Linked DNA regions of Homo sapiens: region 2 is linked to region 1. A link means that fine-mapping ties the variant in region 1 to the expression of a gene that starts in the linked region. Tissue or cell type: whole blood. Region 1 holds a variant in brackets; the other region holds the start of a gene. Each region is shown on its reference strand, or each on the opposite one.

Region 1 (2,893 bases):
GGGCCGCAGCTAAGGGCCGCCGAGCAGCCCTAGGAACCCAGGGCACTGTCCCGCTCTGAGCTCGGGAAACGGCCGGTGTGACAGCCAGCGCCACTGTTAATCCAGGGAGCGCACCCACCGAGGAGGCGTCTTAGGCCAGCGGCCTCTGCTCCCGCCGAGTCCCGCTGCTCCCCGCCTGGAAACAGCTGCTGCCACCCCGGGCCCAGGCCTGGACGGCGCCCCCGAATTTCGGCAGAGGTGCCTCGGGGCCGCGGACAGGGCCGCTGGAGCCCGCACTCCAGAAGGCGGTCTTCCTCGCGCCTCCCCCGACGGACGCGGCCCAGGGCTTCCCTCGAGGGCGTCCTCGGCCGGGGTGCCTGGAGTCCCCAGGGGCGACAGCCGCGGCGGGGCACCAGGGCGCCAGTTCCCCGGAGCCTGGTAGCAAGCGCGTCCCGGGGGCGGGGAGCTTGGCCGGCGGGGCGGGCCGGGGTGGGGGCGGGCGGCTGCTCTTGGGGCCCCGCGCCATTGGCCGCAGGGCCCGGCGGCAGGAAGGGGCCAGCGAGCGCGGCCCCACCCCGCGGCCGGCGGAGCCTATCGCCGGGAGCGCGGAGCGCGGATAAATGTAGCGCCGCGGCGCGGGCCAGCAGCTCTGCGAGGGGCCGGAGCGCGGCGGAGCCATGCAGTACCCGCACCCCGGGCCGGCGGCGGGCGCCGTGGGGGTGCCGCTGTACGCGCCCACGCCGCTGCTGCAACCCGCACACCCGACGCCCTTTTACATCGAGGACATCCTGGGCCGCGGGCCCGCCGCGCCCACGCCCGCCCCCACGCTGCCGTCCCCCAACTCCTCCTTCACCAGCCTCGTGTCCCCCTACCGGACCCCGGTGTACGAGCCCACGCCGATCCATCCAGCCTTCTCGCACCACTCCGCCGCCGCGCTGGCCGCTGCCTACGGACCCGGCGGCTTCGGGGGCCCTCTGTACCCCTTCCCGCGGACGGTGAACGACTACACGCACGCCCTGCTCCGCCACGACCCCCTGGGTAAGGCGGCCGGGCGAGGGTGGGGGCGAGGAAGCGCCACCCGGCAGGTGGCAGCGCCCGGGAGGCCGAGGGGGCGAAGGGGGCAGGCGGTAGACGGCTGTGGCAAAAGCGATGGAAAAGCAGCTGTC[G/T]GGCACGCGCGGGGACGGGAGGCGCGCGGCCGGGGCTGACCGCACCGTGACTCAGATTGGTTTTCCTGCACCTTGCAGGCGTCGGGGCGCGCGGGCCGGCGGTAGACCTCGCGGCGAGGGCAGCCGTGGACCGCGCGTGTTACCCGGGGTGGGGCTCCCTTAGCGGGAGGGACGGGGAAAGGGGCGTCGAGGCGCCCCTGGCCGGCCCCCGTGGGGCAGGGATCGCAGCCGGGCCCGGGTGGCTACGGGGCTGGACCTGGTTCAACAGGCTTGTGCAGTGAAAGAGCCTGACCCTTTCCGTTCATACAGGAAATCTTGAGTTCTCGATAGGAGTAAATCTGGTTTCAGAAGCTGTTAAGTGTTTTCCTGGCTGCATGAAGCAGACCCTTCCCCCGGAGTAGTGCACGCTGCTGATTATTTTATCGACATCCTCAATACAGACAAATTCAGGAAACACTCGACTTCTGATAGCCGGGATCCGTTTTTCTGATATTGTTCATTTCCTCTGTGTGGGATGTGACTTTATGGCAGCTAAAATAACCAGTTGCTTCCTATTTTTTTTCGAGGCTGTTTTGCACCAGTCTGAAGCCTGACGCAAGCAAAATCTCGAAAAAACAATGCTAGCTTTCAAAGCGTTGAGGTGCAGGCCTGCAGACGGACGGACGGACCGACCGACACTACTTTGGGAGTAGGAAGCAGCAGCTCCTGGTCGCCAGTTAGGAAGGGAAGCAGGGACACATAGGGCATATATTCCAGAACTTCGGGGCTTGTCCCCTCAATGTGCGGCCTAACAAATAAGCCGCCCGTGGTCCGCGCTGTGGGTGACCCTTGGCGCCTTCGAGGTCTGGAGCCCTAGGGTAAATAAGGAAACGGGGCGCCTCTAGAGTTTTAAATGAACTCTGTTATTGGAAGCTTCAGTAGGGACCCTGAAAACAATTAACGTCTTAATTAGCATTTTAATGTCTCCATTATTACGGCGCGGGCTCTAGCTCAGCCCTTTACCTTACCTTCTCACCGTTAACAGGGGAGGGGGATTGTATTTTTAGTTCATCTTTTTATGTTTTTGAGTTGTTATCCTGTCTGTCTGATTCCAGCCTCGAGGGTTTGATGATGCGGCCCGAGCCTGGCTGTGGTCGCCTGTCGGGGCTGGAGCGGGACCCTCAGCCGGGCCGGGCCTGGGGGCTAACGTTTTCACAGTGCGCCCTGAGTTTCCTTGGGTTACTGCTGGGACCGCGCAGGAGGAAGCAAAGAGTTTTTCGAGCTAGACCAACAGGAAACACATTGACGGAAATGTTGCCATAGCCCATGGGGTGGCTTTAACTGGCCGCCCCCGCGGGCTGGGTGTGAAATCAGAGGAGGCCGCGGCTCCCCCGGCCAGGATTGGAGGCTCCTCGCGCAACCTAATGCGGGTGTCCGGGCCCGAGCGCTTCCCGCGCAGCCAGGCCTTGTCGGTGCAGCAGCCCCGCTCCTCCCCAACACGCACACACCCGGTGTTCGCAAGTGCGGCTCACCAAGGGAGATCCAAGGGGGCAAAAAGTTATGTATAAATCCGAGAGCCACTGGGGAAAGAGGGTCGTGGTATTGTAAGCCCAGCCGGTAGTGCCCATTCTTTTTGGGGTTAAAGGTATGTCTGGATTTAGTTCTAGGTGTGACGGCTGTGTGTCTGTCTGTGTGTGTACAAGGCTGTGTGCATCTGCGGTGTCAGTGTGTGACTTTGGGTATGTTTGTGTGTCGGTGGGAACGTGTTA
Region 2 (2,893 bases), not on the chromosome of region 1:
GTGTCCCGGGCCTGAGAGCCAGACAGCTCCTGGAACCCGCCCCCACCTCCCCGCAGGGTTCTCACAGCCCTCGTGCTGGATGGAGAAGCCCAGGCTGAGAAAGCAGGGACAGGACACCCCCAGAGCTTCATGGCCTGTGGTGCCTGAGCATGGCCTGGCCTGCCCGGCCTCACAGGACTCCGGACCCCACACACCACATGTCCTCGCCGGACACCTGTGCCCACGAGCTCTGCCTCGGGCCCTAGTGGAACCCCTGGCCTGTGTGGACTCCCAGAGGCACCTCCAGGACTTACCCTGGGACTGTACCCCCTGGCCTGGGGGACAAGGGTGGTGCCGGCAGGTCGTGCAGCAAGGGTCTCCGCAGTGGAATTCAGGCTGGACACACATGCAGTCCCACTCGGAACAGCACTCCTCGCCTGGGCAGGAGACAGGCCAGCCCCCCAGCAGCTGGGCTGAGGCCCCCTCCTCCCCAGGCCTCCCCTCGGCCCTCCAGGGGAGTGAGGTTGTCCGTTCTCCACCCACAGTTGGCTCCAGGGAGCAGAGGGCTCCTGGCTGGGAGTCTGGACCCTGGGTTTATCCAGCTGTCTCTTTCTCCTGGGGCCATGTGGCCTGGCTACTCCCCCTTTGCGCCCCACAGCTGCCCCTGCCCAGGTGCTAACTCCATATGCAACCAGGAGCTGCCCCTGCAGGACCCAGGGGTGGCCCCCAACAGTGCACAGTCCCCTGGAGGCCCGTCGACACCTCAGAGGCCGCCTGCCTGGTGTCTGGGCGCTGCTGTCCCCACCACCAGCCACACTGGGCCTCCGGACAGAGCCTCCCTTCCCAACCCACAGGCCCTGGAGGAAGAAGCTCTGGGGTGACTTCCCTGCCAGCTTCCTCTCCAGACCAGCCGTGTCAGCTGAACCCTCATCCCCAGGTGCAGGTCAGAGGCAGGCAGCAGGCCAGACGGTGGTGCAGGGGGGCCCTCAACTGGGCAGGAGGGGGCTGGGCGATGGCCAAGGGCTCACGACCCGCCCAGCAGGACCTGGAACAGCCGTCCTCCACCTCCAGACCCCAGACCCCTCTTGAGGGCGCTCCCACCTGGCTCACCCCTGCTCCCGGCCGGGGCCACTGGCTGGAGCTGGCACACCTCCGCCTCCCTCTGGGATCCTGCCTCCCTCCGGAAGGCTCCCGCTGCTGGCGGCTCTGTGCCCACCCTCCTTAGACCTCAGCAACGCCGGTCTGAGCACGGGAAGGGGGGCGCCCACCCATCCCGGCTTCCGCGGGACGCCTTGGCCGGTCCGCGTTAAGTAAACGCGGTTTACTTACCCGGGTAATCGCGGCAGCAGCGCGTCGTGTGAACCCGGCAGCAGCGCGCGTCCGTTCCCGTCCCAAGCAGGAGGCGCCCAGGGCCGCACCCGGGACCCCCGGTGGGGCGCTGACCCAGGCTGAGCGCGCACAGCAGCGCCAGGCCGCACAGGGCCCGAAACGCGCCCATCGCCCCGTGCTGTGCCATGCTCGGGTTTCAAGAGCCCACAGCCAGTTGGACACGCCCCGTCCCCGTCCTCACCCGCCCTGCCCGGAGGTGGCTGGGACCGTTCATGACCTGAGAATCCCGACCCAGGTGAAGTGCGTGTGAGGAGGGGGTGTAGACACTGCGGACACAGCCCGGTCCCCCGCAGGTCGCCGGCAGGGGCGGGGAAACCAGGCTGGCGGGGATCAGAAAGGTTTTCTATGCAAAGTCTGCGGCCACATTGGTGTCCCCAGTGCAGGGGGCGGCGTTTATAGCACCTTGTCCCATGGGGGCCCCTTGGAGGGCGGGGGTCAGCCAATCACTCCTCCATCCCACTGCCTCCGGGTGGTATCTGCGAGTCCCCGAGAGGTCTCCACAAATTCTGGCCACCCCCAGAGAGCCTCAACCATGGAGCCCCGTGCTGGGGAACCCCACAGAATGGGGACAGGGACCCCTCGGCTCAGCACACCCCACCTGGCTGGCTTCAGGTGTGAAACTCACCATGGGCTGCAGGCCTGTGGGCTCCCCTCCCCCTTGCTTGCAGCTCTCCAGGACCCCCCTCAGGCCAACCTGGGAAGTTCCCCGGGGCTTGGGAGGGGCACCAGGAGGAGCTGGTGGGGAGACGAGAGGGTGCTGGCGCCTCCTCGGGACAGTGTCAGCCGCCCCCGCGGGCACCCAGGGCCCGGTCTCTCAGAGCCACCTTCATCCGTCACACCAGACAGATCCAGGTCCCGGAGGGAGTTGAGGAGGAGCCCCTCGCAGAGCTCTTGGGAGACTGTCCTATGTCTTTCTGAGCCTCAGTTTCCCCTGTGGGCACCGAGGGGTTCTGGGACCCTGCCTCCACCAGGAAGCCTCCCTGGATTGCCCAGCCCTGCTTCTGCGCCGTCCAGCACAGGTGGAGACCCCCATGAATGCTGGGGGTGGGGGCTCTCGGGAACGTGAGCGTGGATGTGGTTCAACACCCTTTTGAGACCTGCAGCCACCGCCTCACCCCGTAAGGCGGTTCCTCCTTTTCCAAGGTAAATGACAGGAATTAGCTGTTTGTGACACCCCGGAGTTCTCAAATCCAAGATGTAGGAGCCTGCCTTGGAGAGGCAGCCCTCAGACACTGCAGAGAAGGAAGGGGTCTCTGCAGCTCCAGGCCGCCCCGACGCTCGGAAGGAAAGGGGTGGGGCCAGCTGGGCCTGGGGGCCTTTGAGAGGCCTGGAGATCTTCAGCCCCGAGGCTGGGAGGGGGTCTGGGCCCCTGGATAGAAAGAGGCGCCATCAGTGGCTCACGCCCGTAATCCCAGCATTTTGGGAGGCCGAGGTGGGCCTCGGATCACCTGAGGTCAGGGGTTCGAGACCAGCCTGACCCACATGGAGAAAGCCCGTCTCTACTAAAAATACAAAAAAAATTAGC

Evidence for each region. PIP is the estimated chance that this variant, and not a neighbour inherited with it, causes the effect. A credible set is the group of variants that fine-mapping cannot tell apart.
Region 2: TNFRSF18 starts here. The variant in region 1 is the best candidate, but not a certain one, in a credible set for the expression of TNFRSF18 in whole blood (TOPMed, PIP 0.67).

Annotation. Positions count from the first base shown.
Region 1 is chr10:92,689,331-92,692,223 of GRCh38, forward strand. HHEX (hematopoietically expressed homeobox) reads left to right here and starts at 625. Exons shown (of 4, transcript NM_002729.5): 1 at 625-1,017. The coding sequence starts at 657. RefSeq lists silencers at 116-355, 426-745, 1,166-1,245, 1,256-1,405 and an enhancer at 1,936-2,743. The variant G/T (reference allele first, on the strand shown) is at 1,146.
Region 2 is chr1:1,205,077-1,207,969 of GRCh38, forward strand. TNFRSF18 (TNF receptor superfamily member 18) reads right to left here and starts at 1,516. Exons shown (of 5, transcript NM_004195.3): 1 at 1,309-1,516; 2 at 294-416. The coding sequence starts at 1,495. RefSeq lists a silencer at 99-299.